Regions from separate parts of the Homo sapiens genome. Here region 2 is linked to region 1. A link means that fine-mapping ties the variant in region 1 to the expression of a gene that starts in the linked region. Tissue or cell type: whole blood. Region 1 holds a variant in brackets; the other region holds the start of a gene. All regions are shown on one strand. Distances are from middle to middle.

Region 1 (8,000 bases):
CCACCAACGGCTGCCCTCAGCCCAGGCCCGGGAAGGGAGGCCGAGAGCGGGCGTCCTGTTCCTCCAGCCCCAACCGTCCCGCCGGGAGTTCCACGGGGCTGCGTGTCTGCAGGGGACGCCCGGGTACCGCCGCCCAACCAAGGACCCGGCAGCTCCGGGCGGGCCGGGCCGGCCCCTCTCCGCCGCGTCATCCCCCGGCCTCCTGCGGCCGGCAGCGGGCGCCCCTCAGCCCGCCAGGGCCCGGACCGCCGCACGCGAGGCACGGGGACACCAGGCGCCGTCCGGGGACGGGCTTCCGCCGAGAGGAAGCTCGGGGCGGCCAGGCAGTGGCCTCCGCCCTGCGGCCCTGGAGCAGCTCTGCCCGGCGGGCTCGGGGCGGACGGCGGGGACGAGCGCACGGGCGGCCTCGGGGCTCCTGCACTCGCCCAAGGCGGGCGGGGACGACAAGGCGGGACCCCCGAGGGCCGCAGGCGCACTCACCACGGCCGCCTCCGCCCGCTGCGCCGCCCCCGCCCTGCGCGACCCGGACCCGCTTCCGCTGCCGCAGCCGCTCGGACCGCCGCCCCCGCCCAACGGGGAGCCCGCCAGGCCCGACGCCACGAGCCCCGAGGCATCGATGGCCGAGGAAGGCAGAGCGCGCGGGTAGCCCGCATCCGCCCCTCGTGCGCCTGCGCCTTGGGCTCCGGCGGCCTGGCCGGCTTTTCTTTGTGCGCCTGCGCGCACTCGGGCGCATTGGGAACAGCGCCCCTTGTGGCCAGCGGGCGGCGGTCGTGGGCGGGGTTGCAGGCGAGGCTCAACGAACGCTGGTTCGGGACCCGCCTCCGGCGCTCCCTGTTGCCGGGCCCTGAGCAAGTGGCTTCATGAACCCCGTGACGTTGGCCATGGAGATAAGACCACTGGGTGATGGTTTAAGGAAGATAACGTGTAAAGGGCTAAGGACTGTCGGTGGAAATCAGGGGTGCAGGAGAAATGGATAAACAGCCAGAGGTCAACTCGGACTTTGTACATAGGACATGGTGCCAGGGCCCTGCCAGGAAGTGCAGATCGAAGCTAGGCTCACGAGGAGGCTGGAGGTGGGGGGTGGGGAGGCAACGGATGGACATGGACTTCCTGGGCTGGGCTCTGTGACAGCAGAGTAGACTCTGTCCTGGGACTTGGTGGTGCTACCCTTGGCCTCCCACAGTCCTGCCACCCTGCTGCCGCCACCATGCTGCCCCCTGGGACTGCGACCCTCTTGACTCTGCTCCTGGCAGCTGGCTCGCTGGGCCAGAAGCCTCAGAGGCCACGCCGGCCCGCATCCCCCATCAGCACCATCCAGCCCAAGGCCAATTTTGATGCTCAGCAGGTAGAAGTTGGGGGGGGTAGAGGGAGGCAGGTAGAAGTTGTGGGAGGGGTAGAGGGAGACAGGTAGAAGTTGTTGCGGGGGAGAGGGAAGCAGGTGAAGTTGTGGGGGGTGTAGAGGGAAGCAGGTGAGGGGCCCTCCCACAGTGCCCTCGAGTTCTCCCATGGTCTGCCCCCAGTTTGCAGGGACCTGGCTCCTTGTGGCTGTGGGCTCCGCTTGCCGTTTCCTGCAGGAGCAGGGCCACCGGGCCGAGGCCACCACACTGCATGTGGCTCCCCAGGGCACAGCCATGGCTGTCAGTACCTTCCGAAAGCTGTGAGTCCCAGAGCAGCCCTGCACCCTAACCCCAACCCTCCTCTCAGCCCCCGGACTTCAGCCCTGCTCTGGCCCCTGACCCCACCCCGGCTGTGGCCTGGACTAGGATTCCTGGTTGGGGTCTCCCAGCCTGTGGTGCCTCCTCCCCGCCCCCCCAGGGATGGGATCTGCTGGCAGGTGCGCCAGCTCTATGGAGACACAGGGGTCCTCGGCCGCTTCCTGCTTCAAGGTGAGGCAGGGGCTGCAGGGCATGTGGGTGGGGGATGACGCAGCCACTGTGGCTCTCTGACATGGCTACTGTGGCTCTGCCCCAGCCCGAGACGCCCGAGGGGCTGTGCACGTGGTTGTCGCTGAGACCGACTACCAGAGTTTCGCTGTCCTGTACCTGGAGCGGGCGGGGCAGCTGTCAGTGAAGCTCTACGGTATGTGGGGGCCAGCCTCTGTGACCAGGCAGGCGCTCAAGCTCTGCACACTCACTGGGCCACCCCGAGGGGCTGGGTGAGCCCATGGGGACACACTTCCTTTCTCCCATCCTGATCCTCCTGCTAAGCAGGGGCCCAGGGAGTAGTGACAGACAGGCCTGGTGTGGGAGCAGGGAGAGGGCCCCGAGGGGGCAGGGGACACACAGACCCCGTTTCCAGAGCCCTCCACGCCGCCTGGTGCCAGGACCCCAGGAACCCTGTCTGCCCTGCAGCCCGCTCGCTCCCTGTGAGCGACTCGGTCCTGAGTGGGTTTGAGCAGCGGGTCCAGGAGGCCCACCTGACTGAGGACCAGATCTTCTACTTCCCCAAGTACGGTGAGTGTCCCCAGCAGGTCCCCAGCTCAGCCACCCCCACTCTCTGGGCTGATGTCCAGCCTGACCCCTGCCTTGGGCCCCCAGGCTTCTGCGAGGCTGCAGACCAGTTCCACGTCCTGGACGGTGAGTGCACAGCGGGGCAAGCATGGCGGCGTGGTGAGGGGGGCCACTGCCACCGGCTGAGTCTCGTCTCTGCTGCAGAAGTGAGGAGGTGAGGCCGGCACACAGCTCCAGTGCTGAGAAGTCAGTGCCCCGAGAGACGACCCCACCAGTGGGGTGCCCGCTGCCTGTCCTCCGTGAAACCAGCCTCAGATCAGGGCCCTGCCACCCAGGGCAGGGGATCTTCTGCCGGCTGCCCCAGAGGACAGTGGGTGGAGTGGTACCTACTTATTAAATGTCTCAGACCCCTCTCTGACTCTTCTGTCCACTCTGGACCGGCGCCAGTACCACCAAGGCCCTCTCTGCCCCCACCCCGCCTCTTTAAAAGCCCGGCGCTCCCTGTTGGCTGGAGTCCACGCAGTGGGCACTGGGCCGATTTCAGCGGCTCTTGGGATTTGGGAGGGGAGATCCTCTCTGGCATATGCCCATCTTGTGCCCTGCTGGGACCTGGGGGCGTCCAGCCTCACTCCAAGGCTGCTCTTGCCTGGGCCATTGTCCTGCAGCCCCCGGGCTGCTCTTCCGCCCCCGTGGGAGGCCAGCTGTCTCCCGTCACTGCCCATTTTGGCCTCTTCCGAGCCGAGCTGGCACCAGCTGGCC[C/T]GTGTTGGTGGCAGCAGTTGGTGCTGTCCACCCACAGCCACTGCACTCTCTGCACACCTCATCCACTCCCACGTCCCCCGTGAAACCAGGAAGCAGAAGAGAATGTGGGGGTGGGCCAGCTCTGCCCTCGGGGCAGCCCCTGGGCTAGGGCCGGAGAATCAGGAACCCGGCATGGCTTGACCATGCTGGGCCTGGACCTGGCCGCTAAGCTGCTCCTCTCAGGCCCTGCCTGCGGCCACTGGCATTTGTTTGATAAGCATTTCTGAAGGCCCACTGTGTGCTGGGCCCTGGGACCACCAGGTGGGCTGGTCCCTCCCCCTAGGAACTTACAAGTCCAGGGATCAGCCACCAATCGGCCACAGTGGGCAGGGATGGGAGGAGAAGGCACCTTGGAGTTGGTCCCAAAGCACACGGCCTGGGTGGGGGCAGGGAGGAGCCAGCAGCTGCTTCAGGGGGGTCCCCATCCCACGGGCGGGGCTCCCCCTGCCGTGCCCACCTGTTCACTAAGCTGCTAGACCCCAGGAGGGCAGGCAAGTCAGGTGGTGGGAAGGGGAGGCAGGGGCCCTGACTGCCGGGACCTGGGAAGGAGAAGGGCCCAGGAGGTCGTACCCTTGCATCGCCTTCCCCCACTCCAGCTCCATGTCCCAGAGACCCATGAGATAGCAGGGCGCAGCAGAAGGGCTCAGGGTTCAGAGCTGGCAACGCCGGGAAGACTCTAGGCCTGAGCCCCAGGAAAGCCTCCTCCATGCCTGGCCCCACATCCCCCAAACAGAAAGTGAGGGTCTCATCTGGGGGCAGGAGGAGTCGGGTAGCTGGCCACGGTCACAAGCTTCAGGGAGGGCTGAATGTCCGAGGGGTGGCGCCAGAGACCCACCCGATGACCTTGGGTGCTGTGGTTGGTGGCAGAGTGGCCCAGCCTGACCCTCCACGCCTCTGACTGCAGGGCTGGGTGGGTTCCCGCACTGAGTGAAGTGCGTGGCCACTTGGCTGTGTGCTCTGGGACCAGAGGATGTGCAGCGCAAGGATTACAAGGCATTTCATTTTCACAGAAGCATTGAATGAGCTCTAGTTAAATTTCAAACACTACATAAAATCACGATAGCTCTGTGTGAATCATTGTTCTTTAAAATAGTTTGCATAATTTGGCTGGGCGTGGTGGCTTACGCCTATAATCCCAGCACTTTGGGAGGCTGAGGCGGGTGGATCACTTGAGGCCAGGAGTTCAAGACCAGCCTGTCCAACATGGTGAAACCTTGTCTCTACTAAAAATACAAAAATTAGCTGGTCATGGTGGCAGGCGCCTGTAATCCCAGCTACTCCAGAGGCTGAGGCAGGAGAATTGCTTGAACCCAGGAGGCAGAGGTTGTGGTGACCCGGGATCATGCCACTGCCTCCAGTCTGGGCGACAGTGAGACTCTGTCTCAAAAAAAAAAAAAAAAAAAAAATCTATGGAAATGGCTGGGCGCTGTGGCTCACGCCTGTAATTCTAGCACTTTGGGAGGCTGAGGCGGGCAGATCACTTGAGGTCAGGAGTTTGAAACCAGCCTGGCCAACATGGTGAAACCCCGTCTCTACTAAAAATACAAAAAAAATTAGCCAGGCGTGGTGGTGGGCGCCTGTAATCCTAGCTACCCAGGAGGCTCAGGCAGGAGAATCGCTTGAATCCAGGGGACAGAGGTTGCCGTGAGCCGAGATCGCGCCATTGCACTCCAGCCCGGGTGACAGAGCGAGACTCTGTCTCAATTTATTTAAAAAACAACAACAAACAACAACAAAACTATGCAAACTGGCTGGGCACAGTGGCTCACACCTTTAATCTCAGCACTTTGAGAGGCTGAGGCAGGAGGATCGCTTGAGGCCAGGAGTTCAAGATCTGACTGGGTGGGCAACATAGTGAGACCTCATCTCTATTTAAAAAAAAAGTTTTTTCATCTATAGAAACTAACATTTAATTGTTAGCAGTCTTGCCCAAGACCTGCGGGGTCAGGAGTCCAGGACTGTCCTGGGTGCCCCCGCCTTGCCTGGACGTGAGAGTGCTGTGTGGGGCCCCGGGAGCCCCTGGTCCCACAGGCAGGGCCGACAGGCAGGTGCCGTGCCCGTCCTCCCTGCCCACGCAGGTGCTCAGAGGGACAGGTGGGCCAGGACTCCTCCATGTGGGGACGAGGCACCCTCCTCCCCAGCCACGCCCCAACCACCCCTGGCCCCCCACCCCACCCCCAAGGGGCCTCCCAGCGCCCAGGACCGTGTCTGGGAAAAGGTCTTTGCCCGGAGAGTGGGAAGAGAGAGGGGAGGGTGAGCAGAGGACAGGCCGGGAGTTTTCCGGGAACGGAGGAAGAGCAGTGGAGGGTAAGTCTGTCCTTGTTGCTGTGGGGAGGCCGAGATGAAGGCGATGGGTTGGGGGTGGGGGTGCCGGGGAGCGAAGCAGAGGGAAGAGAGGACCTGATGGGAGGGGTCAATGGGAGAGGCCCCAGGGACCGGTCCCCACGGTGGGCTGGGGGTCCAGGGTGCTGAGTGGAAGCGGCGGTTTCCCTCCCGCCTCTCAAGGACGCCTTGCAGAAGGCGCGGCTGCTCCTCCCCGTGGCACGCAAGCTCCCGGGCACCGCCTCCCGCCTCGGCCTCCCAAAGCGCTGGGCTCACTGGCGTGTGCTGCCGCGCCCGGCCCGCCCACCCCAGGCGGTATGGAAGGCCGAGGTCAGAGCCAGGACTCCCCCGGGAGCCCCGCAGGTGCCTCAAGGCCCGCGTCCTGCACGGCCCGTTCCAGCGCCGCCGGCCCAGCCAGGCAAAGGCACCTGCAGGGCCCTGATTGGGCGGCGGAGGTCACGTGCCCACCCTCCACCAATCACGTTAGACGGGAGGAGCAGCACCTGCGTCTGCCCCGCGGTGGGGGGAGGAGGCGCGCCGAACCCATTGTCGTGTCCGGGAGGCTCCTGCAGGGGACGTGGGGGGCACAGAGGTTAACGGCAGCAGCCAGTGGCTACCTGGAGGCACACACAGACCCCCCAGGGCGGCAGGAGTGGGTCTGGGGGAGGGAGCATGGGGCCTGAGGCGCTGCTTGGAGCCGAGGGACCCTCCTCTGTGTCGAGGACTCGGCCCACCCGACCTCTGCTGCTCAGTCTCTGTGGGTCTCGGGCTGGCCAGGGAAGGCCCGGTTTTCCTCCCGCAGGGCCCTGCATGGGCGGGGTCCGTAGCGGGGACTGTCCTGTACATGGGCTGTGTGCTGTGATCCCAAATCTCCCCAGTGCCCTGCGATAAGACGGGCTCCGGGAGGGGTGCCTGCTGCGCTGAGAGCGGGACCCTGGGGCTGCGGACAGGCGCTCCTAGGCTGGCTGGGGCCAGGGGGATGGTGGAGAGTCGAAGGCGCCTTGGGGAGTTCAGGGGAATGAACAGATTATTTCCAACTTTTCCTTCCCTGGGCCAGCCTCCTGAAACGCTAGCGTTGTGCTGGTGAGACAAGGCACAGCAAGCTGCCCTTCTACGTGGGCAGTGAGGCCTGGGACAGAGCCCAGCCCTGGAGCCCTGAAGTCCTGGGGGCTGGGCTCTTCGAGTGGCCAGGCTGGGGCTGCCACCCAGGGCAGGCTGCCGAGGCCCAGGGCACCTCCTGGGATGAGCCTAAGTCCCTTGTAAGCAGGGCTGGATGAGGGGAGGAGGTGGCCAGGACAGGGAATCTGGGGTGGGAGGGGGCAGCCAGGACAGGGACCTGGGGGGCCTGGACAGAGGCTCACAGGCCAGGCACACGGTGAGTGGGAGGCACCTGGCTCACCCTTGGTGACCCCTAACATGGAGTCCAGCACCCAGAGGCTTCAGCTACCTGTGAGGATGGGAGGAGAGGTCAGGAAGGGGACTCCACTCCCTAGCCCCATCGTCCAAGGGGTGCCAGGGCAGCTAGAAGCCCCAAGCCTGCCATTGCCCTCCCTGCCAGCCCTCTGTTTACATTTTATTTTTATATTTTTAGAGATGAGATCTCAGTCTTGCCCAGGCTGGAGTCCAGTGGCACAATCATAGCTTACTGCAGGCTCAAACTCCTGGGCTAAAGCAATCCTCCCACCTCAGCCTCTCAAGTAGCTGGGACCACAGGTGTGCACCACCACCCCCAGCTAACTTTTAAATTTTTTTGTAGAGATGGAGTCTCGCTATGTTGTCCAGGGTGATGTCAAACTCCTGGGCTTGAGAGATCCTCCCACCTTGGCCCCCCAAAGTGCTGGGATTATAGGCATGAGCCTCTGTGCCTGGCCTACTAATCCTTTCTTTTAGGCAGGACCAGCATGGGGTGCCCACTCCCATTAGTGGGGCTTCCCAGCCCTGCCCCTCCCTCTGGGCAGAGACTGCGTTTAAAATGCCCCAGCTGTCCTCACCAGGTTGCCTGGGTGCTCTGCAGGCCCCAGCCTCCCTCCTCGCCTGCTCGGGCCACCTCCACCCCGGCCTCATGGCCACAGGGCCCCTCCCTGGTCCTGTTCTTGCTCCAGGGCCACGGCCCACGCTGCGGTTCAGGCATGTGTGGAGCCAGGCAGGGTGGGGGTAGGGGGGCGGCTGGCAGGCCCAGGCCCTGCAGGGGGAATGCCCGGGTTTGGCCACAGCTGGGCCCTGTCCCTTATGGCTGCGGCAGGTCACGCTGTCTGCCTGGGACGCAACATTCTGTGACAGGGAGGAAGGCTGGGGCAGGCTGCGTGGGGCCTCTGAACCCCCAGCATGGGGCACTTGGAAGGGGGCTGAAGGGGGCAGGGCCTCAGAAATGAGAAGAAGAGGTGGAAGGTGGACCTGGGGGCCCCTCCTACCCCACCTGGCTGGAACCCA
Region 2 (8,000 bases), 80 kb after region 1:
CATCATTCGCGGCCACAGGCCAGCCCCGACCTCCACAGCCCAGCCAGGAGGCACGGCCCAGGACCACACAGGGGAGCAGGCACCGCACCTCAGGGACTCCGGGAGCAGGACACCCGTGTGCAGATGTGCACACACAGCGCAGGCGTGCGAGGTGCCGCGCTCCCCCGGCTGTGCCTGGGGCCTCCTGCCGCACTCACCTTCCTTCACGGAGATGGTGGGCTTCTTCTGTCGCAGCCCCAGCAGGATAAAGAACAGCACCAGGGGGATGAAGATCTCGAAGGCCAGGACCCACTGGAAAGGGTGGGCCCAGTGAGGGATAGGACAGACCTGTGCTCGCCTAGGCCCTCCCCAGCCTCCCATAGGGCTGGCCCAGCCCAGACAGGACCACGTGCTCCCTGGGGCCAGGGAAGGTGGGCACAGGCCCTTCGGAACCACTGAAGGTCTGAGCCCCTTCCAGGGCACTGAGGGTAAGGATTGTCTGGCTCAGCAAATCAGGTTTCCCGTCCCCAGCCCACACTGGGCCTACGTGCCCTCTGAGGAGCCTCAGGGCCTACAGGGACAAATCGGCCAGCTTGTGGTCTACTCTGACCCATGTATATCCCAGCTCATCTTCTCCCTCCCCACCTCCAGGGCTACCTGGGCAAAATCTTGGGGACCATCTGAGCCACTAGCCCCGCCTACACTTCCCACACTGCCCCGGGTTCACCTTCCTCCCACTTCCTCCCCACCAATACCGGGGCCTGGGGAGATGAGGAGGCCTGGTTGAGAGGCTTGGCCTGCGCCCAGGGCCCTGAGCCTCGGAGAAGACCTGGTAAGGGGTCTAACAGCCCCAGTCCCTGAAGCAAAGGCACCTTTTTTTTTTTTTTTTTTTGAGACGGAGTCTCACTCTGTCACCCAGGCTGGAGCACAGTGGTGCGATCTCAGCTCACTGCAAGCTCCGTCCCCCAAGTTCACACCATTCTCTTGCCTCAGCCTCTCGAGTAGCTGGGACTACAGGCGCCCGCCACCATGCCCAGCTAATTTTTTGTATTTTTAGTAGAGACGGGGTTTCACCGTGTTAGCCAGGATGGTGTCGATCTCCTGACCTCGTGATCCGCCCACCTGGGCGTGAGCCACCACACCTGGCCCAAAGGCACCTCTTTCTGCCCTGTCCCCTCTCCTGACCCGGGGCAGCCAGTCTTGGGCCTTGGAGCTCAGTTTCCCCAGGTCGGCTCCTGCTAACCCAGGCTGGGCACCAAGGTGAGCCCTAGTGGGACCTGCGTGGAGTGAGAAAGAGGTGCTTTGCTCACTTCACCTGAAAACCAAGGACTTTACCGGTTCTTGTGTCCCAGCCCCCAGCTCAGGGAGGAGGAGGAGCTTGAGCCAGCTACCCTCCAGAGAGCCCTCGGCAGACCAGCCCTCTCTGAGACCCACAGGACAGAGGGGCCCTGCCCTCCCTAGCCCGAGGGCGAGCACCCAGCTCGGAGGCATCCTTTGTCCTCATCCCCATCCCAAAACCCTTCAGAGCCCCCAGTGTGCTGTGTGGCCCGGGCCGAGTCCCCGGTCCCTGGGGTGGGGGCGGCTGCTGTGTTTACTGTGCTTGGACAATAGGGCTTTGTGGCCAGGAACATCATGCTGTGGGTGTCCCATGCCCGCCCCAGCCCGTGCCAGCCTCCACCCGCTCCCTGAGCCAGGACGGAGCCCAGGGTTCGCCAAGGCACTGTGGGCACCAACAGGCACCAGGGCGAGGGTGGCTGCAGGAGTGAGGCAATGTCAGAGGCAGGGGTCACAGCACGGGGCGCCAGCCCCGCCCACACCCGGCCTGCTATGGGCACTGTAACTGCAGCAACAGGCCCGGCTGCCTCCCCCATTGCTATAGCAACGGCCTCGCACGAGCTACTGGGAGGAGGAGGAGAGTCCTGGCTGGCAGGCGGCGGGCGCCACAGCAGCATCTGGTTACAGGCGGCAGCACAGGTCTAGCACGCCCTGGGTGCCCCACACAGGTGCCTCCAGGTGGCCCAACCTCCGTCCCTCGAGACCAGCCCAGTGCCTTCACATCGCCTGGAGGCCTAGATGCCTTCTCTGGGCATGACCCCTCCCTGTAGCTCCCGCCTACTGTGTCGGGGGGAGAACAGGTGAGACCCGAGGGTGGCGCTGCCATCTGCCATCCCAGTGACTTCATGACAGTGACCCTGTCCCTGCACCAAGAGCAGCCTGTAGCCCAAGGGTAGACCCAAGTCCAGCTAACTAAGAGGAGATAGGCCACACTCACAGACAGGGAAACTGAGGCAAAGAGCTTGGAGGAGCCTGCTAGCAGCACAGAGGTCCTTGGCACCCACCCTCCAGACCCTGAGCTCTGCCCAGGGTGGAGCTCTGCCCAGGGTGCACCCCTGCCCCAGCAGGGCGCATGGCACACAGGGCAAACCTCTGTCATCCAAGCTTGGCCCCAAGAGTCCAGCTCTGATGTCCAAGATCCTTCCCAGGAAAGTGGGGACCCAGCAGGAGTGTGCCCAGTGTCCAGCCAGCCCCAGCCCCACATCACAAGCCTGGCAAGGACTCAGCCTCCCTGGGGGAAACAGTTCCCCACCTGCTCCAGCCATGGGCTAAGGACCTCCACTGTGGCCCAGTGGGCCTCTGGGAGCCCTGTAGGGTGGGGACCCAAAAAGGTCCTGGGGGGCAGCCCAAACCAGCAGCTGGGAGTCACTCTTGCGGTCAGGACAGTGCACACCTCCCACCTGCTTGCCAGCTGCCCTCATAGGCCACACTCCCTTCCCTGAGCATTGTCCCCACTGGAACAGGGGCCACCATTCCAGCCTCTGCTCCCAAGCCCAGTGGGGACCTTCCTGACAACCACCCCCGGGGACTAATACTAATGCATGCCACATGCCACATCCCTGTTCCCTTGGCCCTGCTCTGCTGTCCCCAGTGACTCAATGCCAGGGGCTGCAGGCCTGATCCATGGGACCCCACTCAGCCAGCTCCAGGTGCCTGGCCAGGGCATGTACCTAACCCAGGCTCCCCGCCAAGGCCAGGTGCCCAGGGGAATTCTGCCAGCCATGGTGATGATGGCCACCCCAGCTGACTGCAGCCTGGGTTTCCTGCAGTGCATGTTGAAAGATAAACAGGCACGGACTGGTGCAGCCCAAGGGGTCCCGCCCGGGCCCTGGCTGGGCAAGAGGATGTCTGCCTTAGGCCCCCACCTGCTCTGAGCCCTGGCCTGGACAATCCCAAGGGCCTTCAGAAACCTAAGCTGGTCCAGGCCTGTGGCCTGGGAGGTGTCCCTTCCCTTCCCAGGCTGGAGCCAAGCTGGCCAGCTGGGGGTATGGCAGGACACCCATATCCCCAAGCCCCTCGCTCCACGAAGGACTTCTGTCCCTGACAGCCATGTGTCCTGCACCCTCAGGTCCACTGGCTGCCCAGGCAGTGCTGGGAAAGCCGGGGTTCACAGCTCCAAACAGTAGACCCAGCCCCCAGAGCAGGTGGGGGGACCAGGAGGCAACAGAGTGGATCAGGCTCGGGGAGAACTGACCCCAAAGGACAAATGGGTGCAGAGATTCAGGCTGGCCAAGGCTGGCACAAGGACATTCCCAGTGGCGAGAGCATGAGCAAGGGTCACGGATGTGCCAGGAGGGGAGGCGGAGAGATGCCTGGGACCAACCTCTATGGCAGGCCGCGGCCCAAGGGCAGGGGAGGGGTGGACGGAGGGAAGGGACAGGGTCTCCTCCGGGACCCCAGGGAGGCTGGGCCCAAGGACCATGGAGCCTCGCAGCTGAATGGAGCCCCCCAGGCCTGCCTTCTGTCCTGGGAACCAGGGCCTCCCTCGAGCCAGAGTCCTGAGCGCCGCTTGCCCCCCGCCCACAGCGGCCCCAGCGAGCGCGCTGCAGAGGGCGCGGGTGCCGTGACTCAGCCGAGCACCGCGATGTCAGCGGACGCGGGACCGGACTGGACACGACCGAGCCACCTCCCCGGAGGCCGCAGCGCCGGCAGGCGAGGGCAGGGCCCGGCGGGGAGGGGGCTCGGGCCCGCGCCGCCCCCAGCGCCCGCCGGGGTCTGCGCGCGCCCGGCCGTCCGCACGTGCGCGCGGGGAGCGCGCCTCTGGCCGCGGTGCGCGCGGCCTCGGGCTGAGGGCGGGCGCGTGGGGTGGGCTCACCGGGCTCCGGCGTTTGAGCGTCACGTTCTTCCAGAGCAGCAGCTGCAGCTGGTGCAGGAAGCCCATGGCGGGGCCACGCTCCGCCGCCTCAGCGCCGCGGCCCGCTCCTCTGCGCGCCCCGCCGGGCCCCGCAGCCCGCCGCGCCGCTGGGCATCGCCCGCGCGGGGGCGGGGCGCTCGGGCGTCCGGGACCCGATCCGCGCTGGCTCCGCCCCGGCGGCCGCGGCGACAGCGACTCTGCCCGCGCCCCGCCCGCCCCCGCTTAAAGGCGCCGCGCTCCGTCCGCGCCCGCCAGGAGGCGCCCGCCGCCCGCGCCGCGCCCGGGACCGACCCGGGCCCGAGACCCTGCGCGCGCCGCCGCCGGGAAGCCTCCGGGCCGCCCCTCGCCGGGCGTCACGCGACGCGCCCACATCGAATCCGAGACCCCGGCTTAGCCTTCGTAGGCCGGGGGACCCTCGGGCGCTGCGCTCTTCTCCCAGAGGCATCCGGCTGCGCCCACCGCGCTGGCGACTCTGCAGAGGCGCCCCAAGCCTTCACTGTCCCCGGGGCGCGCCGAGCGGACGCTGGCGAGGGGCCAGCTCACCCCCGTAAGGGTCTCCTGTGTGCTTTGTAAACCAGCACTTGGAGTCCAGGTGGTGCCCACCTGGAAGGGAGGCAGGGCGGCCAGGTGGGTCCGTCCCGCGATTCCGAGCAGCCAGCGGAAGGGGGGAAACTCGAGGCCCCAGGAACGCTCGCCGTGAGCGGAGCAGGCAGGGGACCGAGGCGGCCCCTGCTGCACGCGGCTCGTTTTTCTCCCCATATTCGGGCGAGTCTGGTCTCTGCACAGGGAGTTCGGGATCAGGCGGTTCTGCGGCTGTGGCTTGGCACCTGCTGGGGCGCCCCGGGAGGTGGGGCAGTTCCTCCGCGTGGCCTGTAGAGAGCGACAGAGGACAGGCTGACCCCATGGGTGGCTCTGACGGCGCTTCCCAGACTCAGTTTCCCCCCTGTGAATGGGGTGGAGTAGCGCTGTGTGGTGTCCAGTGTCAGGGCGCACATAGAAGGCGCATCCTCAAGTGAATGAAGACCTCCGAGGCCACAGCTCCCCACTCCTCCCAGCTCCTTTGCAGCAGGAAGGTGACCCTGGGCTAGTGAGTGAGGGATCAGCTTCCCACCCCAGCCCGCAGCCTCAAGGCACTTGCTTTTCTCTGCTCAGTCCACAGGGCTGGGTCAGGGCAGGAAGCTACCAGCAGGTCTTTCCCACAAGCCACAGCCATGGGTGAGGGGGGCTTCCTGCCCTCAACCTGCCCACCCCTACCTGGGGTAGGGACAAGCCCTGTGCCCCAGCCCCGGGGGCTTAGCCTGTTGGGGCCCTGGTCAGCACCACCCGTGGGTTGGCCTCTCTCCTCCTCGCCCCACTCTCCACCGTCCACTACAGGGGCTCCCTGGCTGCAGCCGCATCCCCAGTGCCTCCCCAGCACTGGCCACCAGAGGGAGCTACAAGGCACAGGTCAGACCCTGTCACCCCAGACACCCTCCAGCCTGCGGGCCTGGGAGATGGGCGATTTCAGCCTGGCCAGGCCTCTGACGTCCGTTCCCTACTCTTCCCCAACCTTGGCCTGTTTTGGTTTTTGTTTTGAGACAGGGTCTCATTCTGTTGCCCAGGCTGGAGTGCTGTGGTGTGATCACGGCTCACTGAAGCTTCAACCTCCTGGGCTCAAGCCATCCTCTCACCTCAGTATCCCAAGTAGCTGAGACCACAAGCGTGAGCCACCACGCCCTGCTAATTCTTGTATTTTTGGTAGAGATGAGATTTCACTACACTGCCCAGGCTGGTCTCGAACTCCTGGGCTCATCGCCTTGGCCTTTTGGGGGACACAGAAGGCTCTCTGATAAGGGGCCGTCTGGCGGAGGCTGTAGGAACTGGGGTAGCCAGTGGGCAGCCCGGCACAGGGAGGGCTCTCAGGCGGAGGGTGAGCAAAGGCCCAGAAGTCAGGCGACAGGACCCCCCGTGGGGAACAAGCAGCCCCATGGCCGTGGGGGCGACATGTCAGGGGAGGGCAGATGCAGGCTCTGTGGCCCTGCACGGAGGTGACCCATGAGACACTGGCCAGACCCACGAGGCACTGCTCAGATGTTTATTGTCCACCGCCCTCCCTCCCTGAGCCCAGAACAAGCTGGTTTGCTCCCCGTGGTCTCCTGGGCCCCGCCCCAGCCTACACACAGGGACCTCAGAACTATGGACGTGGCAGGGACCCGTGCCTGTGTCTCGGGGACCACAGGGCCTCTGCTACCGAGGAAGCTCGGGGTCCCAGGTTTGGCCCCCACAAACTTCAGGCTGGGGTGCCCCCCAGCCCCAAGGGCCCTGCCTTTCACCCTCTTCCAGCCAGGCCTTCACCCACCCAAGATTTGTTCAGGGTGGGGAGGGTCCTCGGCAGCCTTTCCCCTCCCGTCTGCCGCAGCAGGCACCCGTTACCTCCCTCCCACTCTCACCTCCTCTGCATGCTCCAGTGCCCACCTGCACCCCCCACCCCTGCTTCCTGACCTCTGTGCCCAGCCTCCCGTTAGCCCGCTGCTTGCCGGTAAGGGCCGGATGCCTGGTGGTTTGATTTCGACACCCAGCCCTTCCACCCACACCCACCTCCCCCGGCCAGCGGATCTCAGGCCTGAAACCAACCCTCAAGGTCCTCATAGACTTGGCTGCGGGGTAGGTGTGGGTAGCGGTCACAGATGGCACAGAAACGTTCCCGCCAGTCGGTGAACAGTCGCACGCGGAGCCTGTCACGCCAGGCAAAGAAGCGTTGGTATCGGCTCTCATTCATGCCAGTGAGGAAAGCCGCCAGCTCTCGGGCTGAGCCAAAGTCATCCACATGCACGAAGGCGTCAGCCGGCACGAAGGCCTCATAGGTGGCCCGTGGGGGCCCCAGCACCACTGGCACAGTGCCAGCCACCAGTGCGTTGCGCCAGAATTTCTCCGTAATGTAGTCGCGGTGCTGAGAGTTCTCAAAGGACAGGTAGAAGCGGTACTGGGCCACGGTGGGCACCAGGCAGCTGGCGCACAGTGGCCGTCCATTGGCACGGCCAAAGACATCCACCCGCAGATGAGGCGCCAGCTGCCGGTACAGCCTGGCACGCAGCTGCCGCTCCTGGAAGTTGCTGACCACCCAGGCGGCCACCCTGCTCTTGGCTGGCAGCGGTGGCGAGGGCCCCCAGTGGGGCTCCAGGCGGCCATAGGGCACAAAGATGTCCGAGTCGCGCCGGTAGCTCAGCACCCAGTTGAAGATGCCTCGGAGGTGGCTGAGGCCGTGGGTGTGGCTAGGAGACTCCATGGAGGCCCACACCCAGGGCTGCCCTCGCGGCCGCTGGGCCAGGGGCAGGTGGGACCGCCGGGTCTGCAGCTCGCGGTGGTGGAAGACCACGGCGTCGGCGCTGGCCAGCAGGCTTCGGTTGGCACTCAGGTGGCAGCGGGCGATGCCGTAGCGGGTGCAGGTGTCGCTGGGCAGCTCTGGGGGCTGGTCAGTGAAGGGCCAGTGCCAGACAAGGATGGTGATCGTGGGCTGGGGTGCCGGGGTACCCCGAGGGGCTGACCCCAGCAGCCACAGGAGCCAGAGGGCAGCGAGCAGAGCCACCCCGGCCAGGACCCCCAAGCCTCGCAGCCTCCGGGTGGGGCCGTGCCCTGCAGCAGCACGAGGGAGGGGAGGCTCTGTCACTTGGGCTCAGGGACATCCACACGCCCCACTCAGCGCCAACCCCGTCCTCCCCTCCCATGGGCTCAGGGACACCCACATGCCCCACTCAGCGCCACCCCCGTCCTCCCCTCCCATGGGCTCAGGGACACCGACATGCCCCACTCAGCGCCACCCCCGTCCTCCCCTCCCAGGTTGCCTAGCTGTCCC

Evidence for each region. PIP is the estimated chance that this variant, and not a neighbour inherited with it, causes the effect.
Region 2: LINC02908 starts here. The variant in region 1 is fine-mapped to the expression of LINC02908 in whole blood (TOPMed, PIP above 0.99).

What each region holds. Positions count from the first base shown.
Region 1 is chr9:136,944,114-136,952,113 of GRCh38, forward strand. It overlaps FBXW5 (F-box and WD repeat domain containing 5), which reads right to left and starts at 625. Exons shown (of 9, transcript NM_018998.4): 1 at 481-625. C8G (complement C8 gamma chain) reads left to right here and starts at 1,130. Exons shown (of 7, transcript NM_000606.3): 1 at 1,130-1,345; 2 at 1,521-1,657; 3 at 1,816-1,886; 4 at 1,972-2,079; 5 at 2,352-2,453; 6 at 2,538-2,576; 7 at 2,655-2,862. The coding sequence starts at 1,208. The coding sequence ends at 2,668. It also overlaps a transcript of LCN12 not described here. RefSeq lists silencers at 89-668, 5,557-5,656, 5,677-6,176. The variant C/T (reference allele first, on the strand shown) is at 3,210.
Region 2 is chr9:137,023,946-137,031,945 of GRCh38, forward strand. It overlaps LINC02908 (long intergenic non-protein coding RNA 2908), which reads left to right and starts at 3,519. Exons shown (of 3, transcript NR_171031.1): 1 at 3,519-3,966. ABCA2 (ATP binding cassette subfamily A member 2) reads right to left here and starts at 4,292. Exons shown (of 49, transcript NM_001606.5): 1 at 4,130-4,292; 2 at 198-291. The coding sequence starts at 4,195. FUT7 (fucosyltransferase 7) reads right to left here. Exons shown (of 2, transcript NM_004479.4): 2 at 6,229-7,780. The coding sequence ends at 6,765. RefSeq lists a silencer at 4,370-4,549 and an enhancer at 4,433-5,177.